Homo sapiens: one gene and its partners. The protein of the gene in region 4 purifies or fractionates together with the protein of the main gene of each other region. This does not show direct contact. Each region holds a gene or a part of one and is shown on either strand. Other genes may lie near its edges. The genes, in order: RIPK2, TMEM184A, CREB3L2, MAP3K4, VSIG1 and SCN2B.

Region 1 (3,873 bases), on a different chromosome or scaffold from region 4:
GACTACACTCTCTACTGTCTTCTCTTCCTTAATCCTTTTTCTTCTTCCTCTTCTCAATTTCTAAGTGCTGGAATGCCTCAGAGCTTTACTATGGGTCCTCTCTTTGCTATGTATATTCCCTTCTTAGATGAACCAGTCCAGACTATCAATATGTTAGTGATGTTCAATTTTATATTAGGATCCTGGACTCTTCCTGGAACAACAGATTCATGTATTGTTGTAGTAGTAGCAGCAGTAATTATGACCGTTTCTACTTGCTGGCTATTATAAACAATGCTGCTATCACTAATCACATACAACTGTGTGAACATATGTTTTCATTTCTCTTGGTTTACCTGTTAGTGGATTGCTTGGTTGTATGGTAAATTTATCTTTCATTTTTAAGAAACTGCCAAACCGTTTTCCAAAGTGGCAGCATCATTTTATATTCCCACCAACAATGTATACGGATTTTGGTTCTGCCACATCACTGTCAACACTTGTTATTTTCTGTCTTTAATTATAGCTATTTTGTGGGTATGAAGTGGTAACTCATTGCAGTTTTAATTTGCATTTCCAAATGACTAATAATATTAAGCATCATTTTATGTGCTTTTTAGCTATTTGTATATCTCCCTTGGTGAAATTCAAATCTTTTACTCATTTAAAAATAGGGCTATATGTCCTATTATTGACTTGTCAGGGTTTTTTATATATTCTAGAATCAAGCCCTTTAGCAGATACATGTTATGCAAATATTTTCTCCCAGTCTGTGGCTCTGCTTTTTTTTTTCCTTCTTGGAAATGAGGTCTTGCTATGTTGCCCAGGTTGGAGTGCAGTAGCTATTCATAGGCACGATCACAGTGCACTATTACACATCCTCAAACTCCTGGGCTCAAGTGATCCTCCTGCCTCAGCCTCCTAAGTACCTGGGACTAAAGTCGTGGACACTAAATGCCTGGCTTTCTCTTTTCTCAATAGTACCTTTCGAAGTGGAAAAGTTTCCAATGTTTGCAAAGTCTGATTATAAATTTTTTAATGAATCCTATTTATTTTTGATGTCATATTTAAAGATTCTGCCTAACCCTAGGTCATGAAGATTTTCTCCTACATTTACATTTGGATGTCTGATCCATTCTACCTCTGAAATACTATCTTAATTCTGTAACTCTTCTGTCTTCAGAATTTCCACCTTAATTAGAATATTCCTGAAAGTGTCTTTTCTAGCCTCTTTGCTTCCACTTTTGTCTTTCTCCAATCAACTTTCCACACAGCAGTAAGAATTTCACCTAAACTTCTATCAGATCATGTCACTTCCCTGCAAAAGATACTTTAATGGCTTTCCATTGCACTTGGAATAAAAATCTAACCTTTTTATGATGGCCAATAGCCTCTCTCTTAACTCTCCAATATCATCTAATTCCTTTCCTTGCTCACTGTATTCCAGCCACACAGGCCTTCTCACTGTTTCTTGAGAATATAAAACTTTTTCCTCTTCTAGGCTCAGAGCCTTTATGCTTGCTGTTTTGTTTGGCTGAATACTCTTTCTTCAGCATTTGAATGACTGGCTCTTTTTCAAGCTTCAAATGTCAGCTCAAATGTTTGCCCCTAAAAAAAGGCCTTTGTTTCCCTCCCTTAATTAGTCTATTACCTTGCTTATTTCCTTATAAGACTGTCACAATTTGTGTATCTTGCTTATTTATTTGTTTTCACTCTGCCTTCTCAACTAGAATGTGAACTAGCTACAGAAAGTTTGTCTTGTTTACTACTCTGTTCCCAGGGCTCACTCCAGTATATACATAGCACATGGTAGGGGTTTAAGACATATTTGTTAAATATATGAAAGAAATTGTTACTCCTATCACACGATTTCTCTTTTTTGTTAGGAATTCTCAATTCTGCTCTAGAAGGAGTTACTCATATATAAATGCTATGATAAGACAGAAAATAATTTAAACAACTTCTAGCTAGTCATCTAATTTGCACAATTTTTCAAGGAATATTTTATTCACAGTATATTAACTAATTCTGTAATTCAAAGAGTCTAGGTTAAAACTATATACTCACTTAAGAAAGATGGTCTTTCATCTGGATTTTGTGCCCATCCACTTTCTATTAGAGAGATCATACGTGCTCGGTGAGGTATATCATATGGCAAACTTTCTTCATTAATAACAGGTCGATGTCCTTGTGACACACTATACATTATCTGCAAAGGATTGGTGACATCTGTCAAAACAAATAGATTGCATTCATTAGTAATATATTATGATTAAGCATATTACTTACATCTAAAACTAACTAAAAGAAAATAAGTGAATATTGAAATTTTAGGAATGATGCCTTACCCCCCTTTCTGTAAAAGGAATATATATACCCCAAACCATTGCCAGACTTGTCTGATTCCTATGGAATGAGTTTATATCCTCACCTCATTAATTTTGGGCTTGACCATGTGATTGGATTTGGTCAACAGAGTATTTGTAAAGCAGAGCTGAGCGAAACCTTGCAGAACTAAGAAGGGCTACAGCAACCAATATTTAATGTGAATGAGAAATAAATGTTTATTTCATAAGCTACGGAGATTCCGAGGTTGTTTTTTGTTACACAACAAGCTGACCTACACAAACCTCAAAATAAAGAAATAAACAATATTTTCAGGGAATAAAAAGGACAGATTAGTCTTCGATATTTGCTAGTCTTTATAGAGGGGGTAGTAATTAAATTATCATATAAATAATTTTACAGCTAGACTAGAACTTGGAAATAGTAATTTAAAATTCTTATTATGCAGGCGACAAAAATGAGGACGCAAGAGATTTGTGACTTGATCACAGAGCTAATTACTGTCAGAACAAGAATTAAAATCTGGGTTTTTCTGATCCTTAATCCAGTACATTTTCCAGTATATAGTAGACTCACAACTGGATCCTTAACCCGGTATATTTTGCAGTATGTGATGCATTCACAACTGATAAATGGTTGTTTTAGTGTGTTTTCCACAAAATGAATAAGCAGATTTAAAATAACATGATTTTTAGATAGTTCTGAGAGTGACCTACTAACATGATGTTATTGAGCATAAAAAAGTCAAACCATACTTACCTTCAAAAGGCTGTTTTCTGGATAACACTTCCCATGTGATAACTGCATAGCTGTTTAACATAAGAACATACATGTTACATATTTTAAATGAACTCTGCATAATAAACTAAAATAGCACTATTTTTAAAAGCTGACTGAAGATACCATTTTTCAAAGTGATAAGGCAGCAAAGAATTACTGTATACAATGAAGATGATAAATGCTCATGTAGTTTGGAAACAAAATCAACTTTAAGTTAAAAAATTAGGAAATTACTGTAATACAAGCTTAACGTTACATGCAAGATTAACTTTTTGTGGATGATTTAATTCTTGGACACCCAGATAAGCTATGCCCTTTAATTAAATGATATTATTTTTCACAAAGAACAAAGAACAAGAAAAAAATTGTCTCATGGAGCTCTATTCTACTGCCTTTTTTCTGCTCTCAGCACTATCTTCTTTGGTAGTAGAAATATCTTGCCTACAGTTTAACTTCAGATGTCAATTACAGGGTTAAGCTGCATAGAGTTTATAATTAGAATAAATGGTTAAATAGGATATAAGAATTTTGCCACACCCCAACATTAACCATGCATTCAAAATGGACACATAGAATTTATTACTACTAACACCTTGTGTTACAGGGAGAGCGAGGAGTACAGAGGGAATTCCTACCCAAATGAAGGAATAATATTTCCTCATTTTTCCCTGACAGAGAATATTGAAATTGAACATAAAGGGAAAATTCACAAAATGAATGACTGGCAGATTTATTGGCCCATTTTTATAGAATCAAACCAGCTTTAAG
Region 2 (2,609 bases), on a different chromosome or scaffold from region 4:
TGGGAAGGAGGGAACTGGCCCCAGGCCACACAGATGCTGCGAGTTGGGATTATGATCGGGTGCAGTGGCTCACACCTGTAATTCCAGCACTTGGGGAGGCCAAGGCGAGTGGATTGCTTGAGCCCAGGAGTCTGAGACCAGCCTGGGCAACATGGTGAAACCCCATCTCTACAAAAAAAAAATACAAAAATTAGCTGGGCGTGGTGGTGCGTGCCGGCGGTCCCAGCTACTCAGGAGGCTGAGATGGGAGGATTGCTTGAGCCTGGGAGGTCGAGGCTGCAGTGAACTGTGATCACGCCCCTGCACTCCAGCTTGGGTGACAAAGCAAGATACTGTCTCAAAAAACTCGAGTTGGGATTTCACCCTGCGTGGTCCAGCACTGAACAGCGTTCACACCTCGGTCAGCTCAGCCCCAAAAACGGGGAAGGCCGGGCGGGGTGGGGACGGCATGCGGGCAGGCCCGTGGCTTTTCGGAGGAGTCCACGGGCTTCCGGCCACTGTGCAGGGGCGCTTTGCTCTCTGCTCCCAGACAGACCCTGTCTTGCTCACAGCTTCCTGCAGGCTCCTCTGAGAGTCCAGCAAAGCTGGGCGAGATGTCTCCCAGGGAAGGGGAACACTGACAGCCGTGCTGCTCTCTGCTCCTTCCACTGGAAGGGAGAGGCTGCATGGACAGGGGGCTCCGGGTGGGGCAGATGGGGACACTCAGGACTGCGGCCTGACCCTCAGAGACTGAGCCCAGGACGTGGTCACCTGACCAGCACCTCCCCCGTGGCTGTCCCAGCCTCACGGTCACGGCCCAGCAGTCCGGGAAAGCCACTTACACGTAGTGCCCGGATCCTGACCCCGGTGAGGGACAGGCAGGGTCCCCTGGGATTGGGGGGGGGGTGTGGTTCTTGGCCCAAGAAAGCCCCAGCTGAAAGCACCAGCTACGCAACGAAAGGGTCTGAAACCAGAAAATTCTTTATTGCAAAGGTACAAAAGCAGTCACAGCAGCAGGACGCACGGCAATAAATTAGGTGGTGGCCGCAGGGACGGGGCAGGGCGGCGGCGGCCAGACACGGGCCCACATGTGATCTGTTTTCAATAATTTATATCATGATAAAAAGCAGCACAAAAAATAAATAATGAAATGGAACTGCCAAGTAGCACAGAAGCCAGGGTGAGGCGGTGTGGCGGCGTGGCGGCATAGGGGGCCGGGGTCCCCACGCCCTGGAAACGCAAAGACCTGGATCTCTTTGGGAAGCCGGAGGCACGGAGACAGAAAACAAACCCACGTGACAAAGAGTCCCTCGTCTTTTTCTTAAATAAAAAAATCCATATATTAAATCATGACAATGAAATTTCAACAATCTGAAAAGAAAAGCAGAACACACCGTGCTTCCCCGGCCCAGCTCTGGGCGGTGACAGCGGCTCCGTCCACCCTGGGGACCAGGGAGTCCCTTCTCCAGCAAAGCACTGCAGGCCAAGGGCAGGTAGAAGCCCACGGCCCACAAGACGTGGACACCAAGAACCCCAAGACGGGACAGAACCGGCCACCCGCTGCGGCCTGTCCTGCGGGGCCCAGCTGCCTGGTACAGTCCGTGGGGAGATGAAGGGGGACGGCGGGCAGCCCGGGCCTCCGCTTTGCTCCCAACTCCCACCTGTGCCCGTGCCCCCGGCTCTGCTCTGATAGATTTACAGTATCAAACTGGAAAAGAAAGATTGTTACGAAAAATCTGTAGATAAACTGTGAATATAATTTTATATCTCTATATATTTTCTGTTTCTCTCTTTAAATATCCCCCTGGTCCTTATGACATCCAATATGGATTACCTACCACGGCCACGGGGGCAACGGCTGTTTGGGAACACGCAGGCCTTTGCTCTGTAGGGACCCAGTGGTCCTGGCGGGCCTGCAGCTTCCCACTCAACTTCTAACAGTAGACACAGAACCAAGTCGCAGCCCCGGGGCTGTCTGTCCTCTGCCCTCCCAGCGTGGCTGGCACCCGCCTGGGCTCTGTAGCTGGTGGGGGCTGTTACTGGGTGGGCAGGGGCAGCCGAGAAGGAGCCAGGGCCCCAGGCACCACCTTGCAGGTCTTATGTGGCGGCCCCCGGCCGGCGGCTCACATTCCGCCAGCTCCCCCAGGCAGGGGCTCCGCAACCCCCGCGGCTCTCGCTGCAGAGACCCCAGTCACAGGAGGGACCCTCAAGGCGGCTCTCCAGGAAAAGGAAGCCCAAGGTGGAGTGCCAAGCCCACTGGTGCCTCAGTGCTCTTGGAAGGAGGAGCAGGCAAAGGCTCCGGGTGAGGACTGAGTGCTGAGGCCAGCCACACCTGCAGCCCGTGGCTGTGCTCCTGGGGGTGTGCGCGCAGGAGCCACGTCCACGAAGCTCTCCTGGACTGGTGCCTGCTGCCTCCCCACCCGCCGCGCCCTCTGGAGTGCCAGGCTCACTCCTGAGCTCTTCTACAAGCCAGCTGCATCCTGGTCCTGCCCCTCAAGGCTTTCCACCTGCTCTCGCACACGGCTCCCGCCTCCTCCCACCACTCCACGCAACGTCCTCCTCCTTCCACCTCCACATCCATGTCCACCAACATCCCCCAGGCTGCACCCCCTCTCCCTAGACTGCAGCAG
Region 3 (3,177 bases), on a different chromosome or scaffold from region 4:
TTTTGCAAAGATTCAGAGAACTAATTTTTCACTGGATAAGACCTGAGTAACCCAGACCCCCCACCGTGGTTCTTTTCACAGCCCTCGACTTTGCACTTAAAAAGGGATATTGTAAATGAAAGGCTGCAGTGCCAGTTTTAAGAAAGAATTTCTGTGAAGTGTGAGGACTCTGGAGTCTAGCTCACATAAAGAGAGTGTTATATAAAAATCCGACAGCTGAACTAGGTTGCTCTTTTTTGGCAGGGAGTGGGGATGAGATTTGACACCAATATGGGCAAAATTAGATAACCTTTTGGTTAATATAAATGATTTTGATTTGGAGGCCTAATTTGTAGATTGTGAAAGCAGCTTTTAGTTTAACTTATTCACAGACCCCTTATAATTACCATGTTTTTTTTTTTCTTCCTAAATCTCTTGGTTCAGCTTGTGAATCTTACGTGCCCGTAAAGTTGGGATGTTGAATTGGCTCTTCTTTGTTCTGGCAGTGAGTCAAGTGTCCAGCATTTTTTCATAAGTGTTTTTTAAAATTGTTCTCCAGCATTTTATGGCTCCTCCCTCCCATGTCCTCAGACCCAGCAAAAGCGTAGAGGCAGAATTAGAGGCCTCTCCAGGCCAGCTCCTCTGCCCACATGTCATACAAGGTGTGAATTTGAGCACAGTCCAGAAATGGAGACATCCCACCCCCAGTTGAATAATGGCCCATTCATGCCAACCTTGCCAACACGGAGAGGGCAGAGATGCACTAGAAGACCTTCATCCTCCCCTTCCTCTGCCCCAAGTCACTACAGTTGGTTCTATTGAAGCCAGTCTTTAAGAAACCTGGGTTAAAGACACCAGCACTTCTGCTTGCTGGGCTGGCTGGACCTGTGAAGCCATGGGCAGGTAGTGCCCTCTTGAGAGTCATTTTATTTGGCCACCTTCAGGTGAGACTATCCATAGACACATGCTAGGATAGGCCCCGCTGGGAGGGCAGTTACAGGAGAGAGTAGGTGGTGGTGACGTGAGGGCTGTGAAGGATCCAGAGACAAGACTTAGATGTTTCGTTCATTCACTCACTCATTCAGTTACTCCTAAGACTTTTCAGTTTCATAAGGAAGAGTGTTGCCTGAGGCCCTAGGGAATATTGGGGAATAGAAGGGATTGAGGAAACATTAATAATAGTTATTCAAAAGACCCAAATGCTTATACTTCTCTCTCCCTTCTTCTCTCTCTGACACACACACACACACACACACACACACACACACACACGTGCACATTCCTCCCTTACATGCTCATTTGTGCCTTAAATGTGCCTTATAGGTAAATCCAGGATGACTGAGGAATCCCTCGTCACTGGGAGATTTTGTATATATTCTTTTATTATTAGATTGAGTTGGGTGTGGGGAAAAATTTTTTTCTGAAGGCTCAAAAGTGGTTTCCTAAAAGTGAGCCACTATCAGATTTGCACATCAGGAGAAAAGAAATAGGGTTACGTCCATTAGGAAAATCCCAGTTTGCAGGAGTGCAATCACATCAAAAAAACAACCAGCCAGGATTAAAGGTATTATAAATCCTCATAGCGGAACATTTCTCAGGGCAAAGGAACCTGGCTCATTTGAAGATTAATGTTCCATGCCTTTGTGGTCAAAGGGTCAGCACTTAACACAGGAAAAAACTAGGTGTTGTTTTGTTTTGTTATTTTGGACAACATAAAATTCAGGAATGTTTTATTTAGCCTTGGTTTCTAGAAGGAAGGGAAATAATATTTCTTGAGCATTTACTAGGGTGTTGCGTGCTGTGCTAAGTAAATTTTAAGTCTTTCAGTTTTATAGATACGGAAAACAAGGGTGACTCTTTACCACAGGATGAATAAAGAACTAAGTAATATGGGAAATGCAGCAATTTCTGGACTAGCTGAGCCGATTCCTTCCTGTGAGCACACTGTAAGCTTTCAAGTTCTCTGGGCAGGAATTACAGCACCTGTCCCCTGCAATGGCCCTGCTGTGTGATGCTCATCGCTTCCCTTCGTGCTGGAGCAGTCCCCCAGGTGTCCATCTCCTATCTTTTTGTTCCAATCTTCTGTGAGTTCCAGCTAGCAGGCTTTACATCTGGGGAAAGGAAAACCAGGGGTTTTAGCTCTGTTCTCTGCTCCCATCCTTCGCTCACCAGCTGAGTGAGAACATGAACTTTTTGCACCATGTACCCATGGCTTACACTACTTAGAAAATCACCTTTTCAGATAAAACAGTTTATGAGTTCATAGAGAACACCAGCACTCTTTGACAAAACTGTGAGTGACCCTTTTTAAACAATGCTGAGCAGGCCCTGAGCTATAATCAACGGTGAGCTTTAATGTCTATGCTGACAGTTAGGTTTTGCTCTCTTTTGTAACAGGTTACGTAGACCAGCAGTGTTTAAATCTAAATACGTTGTGAGTCTGTTATCTGTCCTATCGCGTTTTTTAAATGACTTTTTATTCTTTATCATAGCTAAGTAAATACCAAAAAAAAAAAAAAGCTTTGTAGGACACTTGTACTTAGTTTGGGAAAAAAAAATAAATTGAAATTGTTATGCTTTTGTATTTCCATTTCTTGCAAATAAATATTTTTTCTTAAATAGTAAGATGTTGCCCAGTCTTTATAATCTTGGTACTAATTTGAAAAGCATGTTGTTTTTTTATGAACATGGGTTTGTGTATGTGTGCCGAACCGTTCTTTCCTGGATATCTACTTGGCCTGAAAGAAGAGCCTCAAACCAGCAATTGGTATGTTATATAGGACTGAATCCAAGCCTTAGTTGGAGGAATATTGAGAATGTAATTGTTTTTTCAGGCAGCCACGGGAAGAAAAACAGTATCCTCTAGAGACTTATGCAGCATGACTGTTATTTTTATTGTCTCCTCTAACTATTCCCTAACTAGATTTCAACTGTCTGTGGATTTGATTTTGCTTTCCCCATCTCTGGTTGCTTGAGAAAGATCCTTTGGACTTGAGCCAGAAAGGAATGATCCTTCTTCCTACGAACAGTTGCAGAGGATGTCTAACAGATTCATGCTCCAGAAATTCTGATGAAATGGTTGATAAAGGTCAGTGCACTCAAGCAGAGTAATCTTCGTTCCATTACAATGTCTGAATCCAAATGTAGCTTTCTTCACTCAGAGAGTGGGGGCTTCGTTTAGTCTCAGACTGACTTGGG
Region 4 (3,873 bases):
TAAGTTTACAGCGTGACCTTTTGGAAAGGAGAATAATTTTTTAAAATTTAATTTTGTTTTGAAACCAATGGGAAGCATGGAAGAGGATTTTAGACATGATAGGTGCCATCTGTAATTCAACAATTATTTATTTGTAATTCAACAAGTATTTATGAGTTTTGTAACACAAAGTTCCTACTTTGAATCTCAGATGCAGCAAATGTGTTTTCTCTAACTTGGAGAAATTGCTTAATGACTTTAAGAAAGTGCCCCATGCTATCCCTCCATTACAAATTACAGAACACTCAGCTATTTCTCACACAGTCATGACACTTTAATAACTATGTTTACTTTAGTGGAGCTAGTATTGAGCCTCACAGACGATTCACCCATTTCACCCCTGCAAATTCCAAAATGGTTTCTTAATGAATAAATTTCATGAGGGAGGAAAATACATTAGTCATCAGGAAGACTTGTCAAAGGAGAACATGAGTTCCCTTAAAGGTAACTCAAATTTGGAACAAATTTAAAAAAAAATTTTTTCCCAAGAGTTACGCAGTTTTCTCTACATATTTTTCCATTAAAAAAAACCTGATCACCGAAGAGTTTAGAGTGTTCCCTTCTGTGTCGTCTGCTCAAAAAGAATCCCACAGAACATATATGAACAAATACCACCAAGCCCACATGACACATTTCAGAAACATCCTACTTGGTCATTACCTGGGTCTTGTACCTCTACCACTCTCACATTTAGTCAGGACATAATTCATCCACTTCCGGGCAAAGCTTATATATTTGTCTCCTATCTTCTGTCTAAACTCCCCAGACATCAAACGAACAACTTCTTTATGATACTGTAAGAAGATTTCATGTATATCAACATTAAGGAAATGATCATTAAATAATATCACACACTATAATGCCATGTCTAAAATGTTTTCTAAAAACAAAAAGTGAAATCCAATTAAAATTTCTATATTTTGAATAGTATGAAGAATTATGGAAAGTACAGTGTTTCAAAATGCAGTTTCATAAATGTTTTACTCCTGAGTTTAAATTAAGAATGTGCTTTTATGACATAAAACATCTCTTTAAAGTTTTAAAATGTAAGTAGATGGCTGTTAGCACAAAATAAAAGTTGGACAATTACCTAACAGTTTAAAAGTAAACTAACATCTCTGATATACAGCAGTGATATAAGATGATATTCTTGATTAAGCTATGATTACAATATCAGATTTACTGTAAAAGGTTCCAAAAACTTTCTGTAAGTTATCAAGCAATTACTAAATTGTACCGTGTTTCCTCTTATTTTGAACCTACCTCAAATCCAAAATTGTACCCCTGAATCATTGCTTCTCGGTAGTACTGTTGCAAGGTGACAGATTCAGATTCATCAACCTCAGCATCAAATTCTGATGTGAACATGTGGTCCACGCGGTCAATGGCATTGCTTATCCTGTTGCATAGCTCCAATGCATCATTCTGAAGAGTCCAAACCATGATTAATGCAAAATGAAGCAAATCATACAATACTTACCACATTTTAAAGGAAGATTTCGTTCATCATCACACAGACATTAACCACTACAAACAATTCAGCCACTTGGTAAAGGAATTACCAAATATAGAAGAAATTATGTCATTTTATTTGGCATTCTTAAATAGAAGAGAAAAAAATGCATTTAAAATGATACAGTCTAGTTATAATCTGCTCTTGGAATAGATGCTTTTATCTTCAATATTTTTATACATCAACCACCTGTTGTTTTCTCCTCCTGGACGGTTGCTCAACCATAAGTACGGGTGCAATTCCACAGAGTGAAAAAGTCCATGTACTTCTAGATGACCTCCTCCGATCGTGCTGTCCTCATTTCCCTGCTACTCCCTAGTCCAGGGGTTCTCTTCTGGGGCAGATTTCTCCCCCTCCCCTCAGCGTCTGGAGACGTTGTCCAGAGAAGTTTTTGATGGTCAAAATTTGGAGGAAAAAGTGGAAGTACTGGGATATGGTGAGTAGAGGCCAGGGATGCTGCTAAACATCCTACAATGCGCAGGACGGCCCTCCACGACCAAGAGTTACGGGCCCAAACGTCCACATCCAAGAGGCTGAGAAGCCCTGCCCTGGCTCTAAACATCCTACAATGCGCAGGGCGGCCCTCCACGACCAAGAATTACGGGCCCAAACGTCCACATCCAAGAGGCTGAGAAGCCCTGCCCTGGCTCTAAACATCCTACAATGCGCAGGACGGCCCTCCATGACCAAGAGTTACGGGCCCAAACGTCCACATCCAAGAGGCTGAGAAGCCCTGCCCTGGCTCTAAACATCCTACAATGCGCAGGACAGCCCTCCACGACCAAGAGTTACGGGCCCAAACGTCCACATCCAAGAGGCTGAGAAGCCCTGCCCTAGCTCTAAACATCCTACAATGCGCAGGACGGCCCTCCACGACCAAGAGTTACGGGCCCAAACGTCCACATCCAAGAGGCTGAGAAGCCCTGCCCTGGCTCGAGCTTTTGTCACCTCTGTCAGCAACATCACAATAGCTCCAAATCGGTCTCTCTCTCTACCCACCCTTACACACGAGTGCACACAAGGTCTCCATCAGGCAATCCCCTTACTATGGTTACAAAATATTCTTCCAGCAATCCATAGAGAGAGATAACCTAAATATTTAGTTAATAAATGTTTATAGATAAATCAGACAAATCAGACCAACAGAAGAAAAACAAGTGTTTACGAAATGACTTGTAACTTCAGAGAATGTTTCTTCTTCAAGAAGTTAAGCCTTAATGTGAGTGAGAAGACATAACTGATGGCCTGGAAAAGTGTGGATGAGATCAAGACTGATACATGGGATACAAAATAGAAAGTGTCAAAAACAGGAAATAATGGAAAAAGACAGCCAGGCTGGGGCTTGTCATAAACTTTGAAAGGCCTTTGTACTTCTCTGCAACTTTTTTCTATTATATTTAATTTGGTTGAATTATTTATTAAACAAAACAATAAATAAATCTTCTATTACACACTGCTGATATGGAGTACCTCTAGTAAATACTGGGGATTGTGAAAGGAGAATGAAATTTACACTGGGAATGAAGAGACCTAAATTATTAAATTTTCAACTTTGCCACTAACCAGTCATGTAGCCATTATGAATAAGTCACATAAAGTTCAATTCTCTATCCTTTCCAATTATAAAGTTCTACAGCTTCAGGAAGAATCTCAGAATATGTAGTTTAGACATAAGAAAATATGTATTGGGAAGAGAGGTGAGTGGGCAGGCAATTCAGGAGCTCAAGTTCCTTGGATGATATTACCTTACACACATTACCACACACTGACTTTCATCAAAAAGGAAAAATCTCAGCTAATGTAGAGGACAGTGTAATACCTTCAGCTGCTGCAAAGCTTTGGCGATGACCGGCTGACTGGATGTCTGCTCCTGGCACAGAGTCATAAGTCCCTCAATGGACTGCTGGAAAGCTTTTCTCTGAATTGTGAGATGCGCAGACTGCATGACAACTAGTAAAAGATTATCCACCTGGGAGGAAAATCAAGCACAGGACATAAAAACCAACCCAGTTACTAGTTGTTATTCTAGTTCAACACCAGTCCAAAAACAATGCCAATCTCAGGGATACCAGGCCAACAACCATCTAATCAGAAAGTCATTTTTAAGCAAAGCTTCTCCTACACAGCAACACGCTTCAGTGGGCATTGACAGCTGGGATATTCAGCACCACGGAGAAGAACCCTTTGGGACTGCAGGCATGACATCTTTGAGATATCCTAGAACTTCAAGTAGTTCAGTACTGCCAGTGCAGAGTGTGTGTGAGTGTGTGTGTGTATGTGTGCATGTGTGTGTGTATTGGAGCAGCATATGAAGAAGGAAA
Region 5 (3,873 bases), on a different chromosome or scaffold from region 4:
TCAGGGCAGTGGCCAGCTCTTTCCATAGTCCCATCTTCCCTTTCCTGAAATCATTGTGTTAGATTAGCAATTGACTCTGAGGCCTGGTATTCCTCAATACCTAGGGGCTGATGTTATCTCTTACTGACTATCCCCTTTGGAGAACAGAGACTGAAGTATCCCACAGGTCTTCCCACCAAGAAGGCCAGGATATTCATTAGCATGGTCCTTCTCTCAGAGAAACATTCCTCTCAGAAAATATGAACAGCTTTAGATAGTCAATCCCTCAGCAGGGAATCTCAGCTGAAAACTCTAGGCCAGGTATGGGCAGGCTAACATGGAAATTTGGGGTGGTCTGGTGCCTTTCTGGTCACACAGATGGCTTCATCTTCCATCCAGTCTGTTAATGCTAACACTACAGAGACCCCACCTGTCCCTGAACAGACCATGCCTTGACTCTGCTTAGCATGAATCTCTCAGACAATACTTATTCTTCAAGAATGTTCATAGTGAAAAAATACCCTTTGCCAGTCTCATAAACAACTTAGACAACTTCTTTCCCAGGACCTAGTGTTCTTATGTTCTCTGGCTTCTCAGGTTTTACAACCTGAAATACACAGGACAGAGCCACACAATAAAGAGTTGTCTGCCCAAAATGCCAGTGTCACCCCTACTGAGAAATACTGCAAGTTCTTCCCCACCCCACCATCAAATTTATGTATTGTGTCCCATTCACTTTCTGCTAAATCTGATAAATTAATCTCATGGTAAGGTGTTAGGGACTAGCGAAAGCTTATTTTATTCTCTTCTAAAGAATGCATTGAATGGGACCTTCCATGCCTTCTTCCAAAAGGAGCAACTCAAATGGCAGATACCCAGGCAAATGGAGGGTTGGTAAGAGAGTTGGTTTGGAAGCAAGAGAGTCTTTCTTTTGGTATCCCATTCCTTCCACATGCCATCCCTGCACCACAATACAGTCCAAATAAAATTCTGAGCTTGTGACCATTGCCACCTTATACCTGCACACCCCTTCCCTATCCTATGGCTAGCCCCTCTATCAGCAGTACAAGAAAGCAAGAAGCTGGAAAGGAAAGAATGGGTGGTTTGCTGTGGATGTCCATGTCCTCCACCTTCCCAGAAGGAATCTGCAAAAGCAGCTCTGGAAGCTAACTCCAACTCAGATTCAAACAGAAAGCAGACTGAATTCTTTCAACCCTTCTTGTTTATACTCCATGCTTCTAGTTAGAGAGCAGTGTCACTAAGCTGAGGAAAAAGTCTTTTAGGACAAATCTGGTTCCCAGCTGCACGGCCTTGTGTGAATAGGAACTTGGCACAGTAGGAAGGGAAAGGTTGCTCTGCAAAGAACTGAGGGGCCTACAATTGCAGCTGGCAAATATTGAGGGCATCATGTGGTGAACATACTCAGCATGGGAAGCATCATGCCAATAAATAGCAACAATTGGCAGGAGAAAGGTTGGGCTGGAGCAGGGAATGGAATGGTCCCAAAAGGAGAAGGTTGCCCAGGAATCATCTTTCTCATCTTAAGAAGCACTGTGAGTGCCATCTTAATATATTCAGTGGGAATCAGAAGGTCTGAATTCCAGGTCTGACTGTAAATTGTGTGACCTTGGGAAAATGGCTCCCTCTATTGAGGCCTCGGTGTCCTTTTTTTGTATTAGAAAAGGATGAATTCGAGTTTACTAACCGCAGGCCTCTGGGTCAGATTTGGCCAGTGGATGTATTTCAGTCGGCCTGCCCAGTATTTTGTTTGTTTGTTTCAACAGTTCGAATGCCTTGTTTGCGTTGACTTTTCCGTTCCCTGCAGTCCCCATATCTGTTATGAGCTTACCACTACTTACCAGCCCCTCCCAGCCATTTCCCATATTTCCAATATCCATCGGGCTCCTGAAGGCCCCTTAACCTTAGAAACCACAAACCAAACTATCTCACAGAGGTCTTATAATTAATGTGCAATTATGACTCCACCCATCAGCCTCTAGCGTCACCCTGGGGGCAGGCAGAGAGGACCTTGGGAGAAAGCAGGGCAGTCTACCATGAACCCAAGCACAAAGTGCAGGTGGGTAAAAAATTAACAAGCGCCCCTTAAGGGAACACTGGGATGGATTTCCTTAAAAAAATCACCTCCTCCCCACCTCCACCCAAAGATGTGGCCCATTGTACATCCGGGGCTTTTTCTGGATCTCCATTGCTTTGACGTCTAAATTGATAATATTCTTTCTTTGAAAAGTGTACAAGCCACACAGGATCATGGGCCAGGCTTTGGCCACTGTTCAGCTTTGATTTTTAAAAGAGTTATTCTTTTATGGAAAGTGGAATCAAGTTGTAGCCCTTCCTATATGATTAGATAAGCAGTTTCAGGAAAACACTTCTTTCTTTTTTTCTTTACAAGGACAGTGTGACTGTGTGGACTTCCCCTTAACAGAAAGCCCCTCCATGTATGTGTCTGGCTGCTGCTGTCTACCCCTAGGTACTTTACTTCTTACAGAGAACTGTGAAGCCAAAGCCTTGGCTCTTTTAGGTCTCCATTGTTAGCCCTCACTACCCCCATTTCTGTCTCTAATACCTTTTAGTGTCAATCGTGAGAGGGCAAAATGTATTAGACTACAGCATGAGGAGCTAGCATGTAAGAGGTAGTAAAGGTCTTTTTCATGGGTAAGGTTCCAGGGCCTCATTGCTTATATACTCATTTCACCTTGACTCATGCCCAACTATGGGACTTTTACAGTGGGCATGGACACATGGATACAGTGGACACTTTTACTTCTTCTCATATCCTAATTCTGGCCTAAAACACACCATTTTGGCCTCAAGATCTCTGCAGAAATAAGGTCCTTTTCACCTGGATCCTCTGGGACTTGCTGTGGGCCTCAGGCGTGACTGATGTTGTATCTCATTGTGATGTCATCAAGCATCAGTATAAAACAGGGCTGATGTTTTACACTGTCCACAGTCTCCTTGGGAGGAGGGGAAGTGGCCAGATGTTGAGGCTGTGAAGGGCACTCTTGATGGACAGCAGGCTGAACTCCAGGTAAGAAACAACAAGACCTCAAACTGTCAATTAGAAAGTAAATAAGCCCCATGCTGCCTAGTGAAATTGAAAGCCTGATAGCGTGGGTGCCAACTCAAATGAAAGTAATCCTCTGATGTATTGAACCTCCTTCTGTCCCACTTGAATACCTGGAGTTAATCCTGGCTTTCTGGTTTGGAAGTCAAACAAGACCATTCTGGGGCAAGAGTTTGTGATTTCAGTAGGTGTGAATGAATGAATTATAAATGGCTGCATTTATAATGCAAGCAAGAAAACACGTTGATGTTAGAAAAAACGGGAGAGAAACAAATAGTTTTCTCTGTAAATGTACTCTTTTCCTGGGATTTTTCCCTCAAAATCCAGCTTTCTGCCTTAGTTTTAAAATATATTGACTTTCTGCTTAAAGGAGAATACATTTGAATTCATCTAGACAATATCTTTTGGTTTTCTAATTGCTTTCCCTCTTTTATTGGCCTGTTAAGGTAAAGCCCACAGTACAAGGAATTAGGAAAATTGGATTCCAGATCTGTCTCAACCGTCAATTTTGCCTTTTATTTTTTAACCTCTCTGGGCTTTGGTTTCTTCTGTAAACTGAGGGAAGTGAATTAAATGAACTGTAAGGCCTTCCAGTAGATTTTATGAAAAATTAGTCTCACCAGACTAAGACAATACAGTTTATTGAACAATAACAATCACTTGAATAATATACATTTACATGAAACCAACAAAACATGTACATAGAAGGTGTGTATTATGAAGGGACCTCAGGAATTACCTAATCCAGTGATTTCCCAGCTTCAGTCATTCATGTACCATCTACATGATTTTTGTCATATTTGTGTATC
Region 6 (2,540 bases), on a different chromosome or scaffold from region 4:
TATATATAGGATCCAGCAGTATGTAGATGGGACATGAGCCACCTGAACCTTCCCACAGCCACCCTTCTCCATGAACTGCATGAGGGCAGACTCTGACCAGCTGTCATCTATTCTTTCTGAGTCCAGAGGAGGCAAAAGAAATGTCTAATCCAACACCTTTGGGGAACAGAGCAGGAAGGATGGCCTGTCTGCCCATGCAAAGGACAGGCAACATCCGCATGACAGTCAGCCTTGGGAGCTTCCGGGGTTGTCTTCATCCCCAAAATAATCGAGAGCCCTCCAAGAAGTAGGTGTTCAGCCACTCTGTTCCAGGGTGAGCGGAGTCCCCAGGGGGTTGGGGAAGGCAAAGGGATGAAACATCTGTGGGGGCACAAGTGTGGGGTAGACAACCTTCCCCTTGTGAGGCAGGGGCATTGAGGCCCTCAGATGCTGGAGATCTGGCAGCGCCAATGGGATTACCAGGAAAGGAGCACCTAGGGTTCCAGTTAAGATCCTGGTGAAGCATCAGCCTACCCTGCCCTGAACCCCTGAATAAAGCCACACTCGAGGGATTTTCAGGGGAGATAGTTTATTGTTGCCAGTAGACCCAAACAATAAGACAAATTGCAAAAGAAACTCAGTCTGCTCCCAAAAGCAGATACATCCCAGCAGTCGAGTCACAGAGGGCCATCTCAGTTTCTCTCCCCTTCCAACCACCCCTTCCAACCTCTCTATAGCACACACAACCAAGAAAGTGCATATGTAGTTGGGTTTTCCCCTCCAAGTGCACAAAGCGCAAGAACATTCCAAAATTTGCCTTTGGTGAATCAACTCAAAACACTGAGAAGTTATTACACCTCCCCACACACACACAGTGTAACTTTTGGGGTGGGTGTGGTGAGATGTTTGATATTTGTATATATAATATATCTATACCTAGAGAGAGAGACTATGTACAGTGCATCAGCAAGCTTCAATAAAGGAAGACGCCAGCAAGAGGCACAGCAAGAGACACAGGCTGTCCATCTTTAAGACATAAGTAGGAAGGAAGATTTCTTGCTTCATCACCCGTTAACTGCACCAAGCCATTCCTATGGCCTGGAACTATCCTTTTGGACCTGCCCAGTATTTTCAATTGTCTGTCTGCTTAACCTGACCTTGCAAATATTTACCAGCCCAACCTCCCCAAGGAGACTCGCAGAGAGAAACATGGATCCGATCAGCTTTTCCTTTTTATAAACTGGAAATAACTGTGAAGAGTCCATAGCTAGGGGGCAGATAGCTATTTCCAAAGCCAGTTCCAAGGCACCTCAAAGCAGTTCAGTCCTGAATAATTGTGCTTTGTTCTTATAAGCTAAATCCCATGGGTTAGCCAGCCCGTCTCTCTTTGCAGTGGCCCTTAATTAGGAGGAAGAGACAGATGGGGGGTGGGGGCAGAGGGAGGTTCTGAGAGAGCAGGAGAGGCTGGGGCAGTTGAGAAAGTCAGCCGACTAAAACCAGCAGAGCGTGGTGGTGGGAACATGCAACCAGAAGTGGGGCTCGAACCCCACGGTAGGAAGAGGAAGAACTTGTCAGCATAAGTTAGGAAACAGGGTAGGGAAATGGCTGCTGTGGAAACATCTCTCTGGTTTTCCACCTCTACTTACAGAAGCCCCATTTTGCTCCCAACTTCACCATCCTGGGGGAGGCAGCTCTATGAGTCCTCTGGAGGAGATTCTAAGAGGCTCCAGAAGAAAATGCATATGAGGGCTGAGCACCTGGGACAGAGATGGTTCCTGACCCAGCCCCATCTGCTGGGGCCCTGAGGCCCGTGAAGAGACATTGCTTTTCCTGGGCCCCAGTTGATCAGGGCAGAGGAAAAAAAGACTCCAGGAATCTTGGGCTTCTTGATGGAGAGTTAGAACTTCTTAGAATACACTAGGAAAGCCCGCAAATAATTCCCCTAAATGTTATGGATCCTGGAAAAAGATAAGTTCCCAACATCAGCACAGCTCCTCACTCATCCTGGGAGAGAAGGACACTTAAAGGGTGACCAAAAAAATGAAATCTGCAAGCTGCAGAAATGTATACAACCACTCTTGGTCTCAGCTGGCATGAGGTGCCCGCCACCCACCTCTCTGCCCCCAGCTGGCTGGCTCAAGGATGGGCAGCGTCCATCTGCTGCAGGCATCCTGGCGGCTTAGCCCACCCGCATTGGCAGTGTGTTGATTGGCAGTTAGGTACTGAGCTGATGAGTTTAGCATTTCCAGATGGGCTTGACTCGCTCACCTCACCCAGGTGTTACCAGGCTGGTTGCCCATCCCCCACTCTGCACCCACTCTGCCTGGCCTCTGCACCCTTGACCCTGTTGTATTGCCCCTCTTCCCTGCTGTTTCTCCCTTCCCAGGGCACAGATTCTAGAATCTCTTCATCTTCCCCAACTGTAGCCTTGGAAGCAGTGTCTTGCAGAGGTGGAATTAGATGCACCAAAAAGTTAATCTTGGTCCCTACAGTGCCAACCTGGCAGTCCCCAGTGCTTATGGCTTTGTGTATATCCCCAGTGCCCGGCACAGTGCCTGGCA

The links.
Region 1: the proteins of MAP3K4 (region 4) and RIPK2 purify together in Homo sapiens (affinity purification with western blotting, with the first as the bait; one study listed by BioGRID). This does not show direct contact.
Region 2: the proteins of MAP3K4 (region 4) and TMEM184A purify together in Homo sapiens (co-immunoprecipitation; one large-scale study listed by IntAct). This does not show direct contact.
Region 3: the proteins of MAP3K4 (region 4) and CREB3L2 purify together in Homo sapiens (co-immunoprecipitation; one large-scale study listed by IntAct). This does not show direct contact.
Region 5: the proteins of MAP3K4 (region 4) and VSIG1 purify together in Homo sapiens (co-immunoprecipitation; one large-scale study listed by IntAct). This does not show direct contact.
Region 6: the proteins of MAP3K4 (region 4) and SCN2B purify together in Homo sapiens (co-immunoprecipitation; one large-scale study listed by IntAct). This does not show direct contact.

What each region holds. Positions count from the first base shown.
Region 1 is NC_000008.11:89,771,002-89,774,874, reverse strand, and holds part of RIPK2 (receptor-interacting serine/threonine-protein kinase 2), read right to left. Parts: intron 3,135-3,873; coding exon 3,085-3,134; intron 2,209-3,084; coding exon 2,047-2,208; intron 1-2,046.
Region 2 is NC_000007.14:1,541,377-1,543,985, reverse strand, and holds the end of TMEM184A (transmembrane protein 184A), read left to right. Parts: 3' UTR 1-1,751; downstream 1,752-2,609. UniProt on the Homo sapiens protein: Acts as a heparin receptor in vascular cells. May be involved in vesicle transport in exocrine cells and Sertoli cells.
Region 3 is NC_000007.14:137,874,406-137,877,582, reverse strand, and holds the end of CREB3L2 (cyclic AMP-responsive element-binding protein 3-like protein 2), read left to right. Parts: 3' UTR 1-2,604; downstream 2,605-3,177. UniProt on the Homo sapiens protein: Transcription factor involved in unfolded protein response (UPR).
Region 4 is NC_000006.12:161,088,970-161,092,842, reverse strand, and holds part of MAP3K4 (mitogen-activated protein kinase kinase kinase 4), read right to left. Parts: intron 3,522-3,873; coding exon 3,372-3,521; intron 1,465-3,371; coding exon 1,303-1,464; intron 834-1,302; coding exon 700-833; intron 1-699. UniProt on the Homo sapiens protein: Component of a protein kinase signal transduction cascade. Activates the CSBP2, P38 and JNK MAPK pathways, but not the ERK pathway. Specifically phosphorylates and activates MAP2K4 and MAP2K6.
Region 5 is NC_000023.11:108,061,760-108,065,632, forward strand, and holds part of VSIG1 (V-set and immunoglobulin domain-containing protein 1 isoform 2 precursor), read left to right. Parts: intron 1-2,950; coding exon of another isoform or gene 2,951-3,028; intron 3,029-3,873.
Region 6 is NC_000011.10:118,162,255-118,164,794, forward strand, and holds the end of SCN2B (sodium channel regulatory subunit beta-2 precursor), read right to left. Parts: 3' UTR 552-2,540; downstream 1-551. UniProt on the Homo sapiens protein: Regulatory subunit of multiple voltage-gated sodium (Nav) channels directly mediating the depolarization of excitable membranes.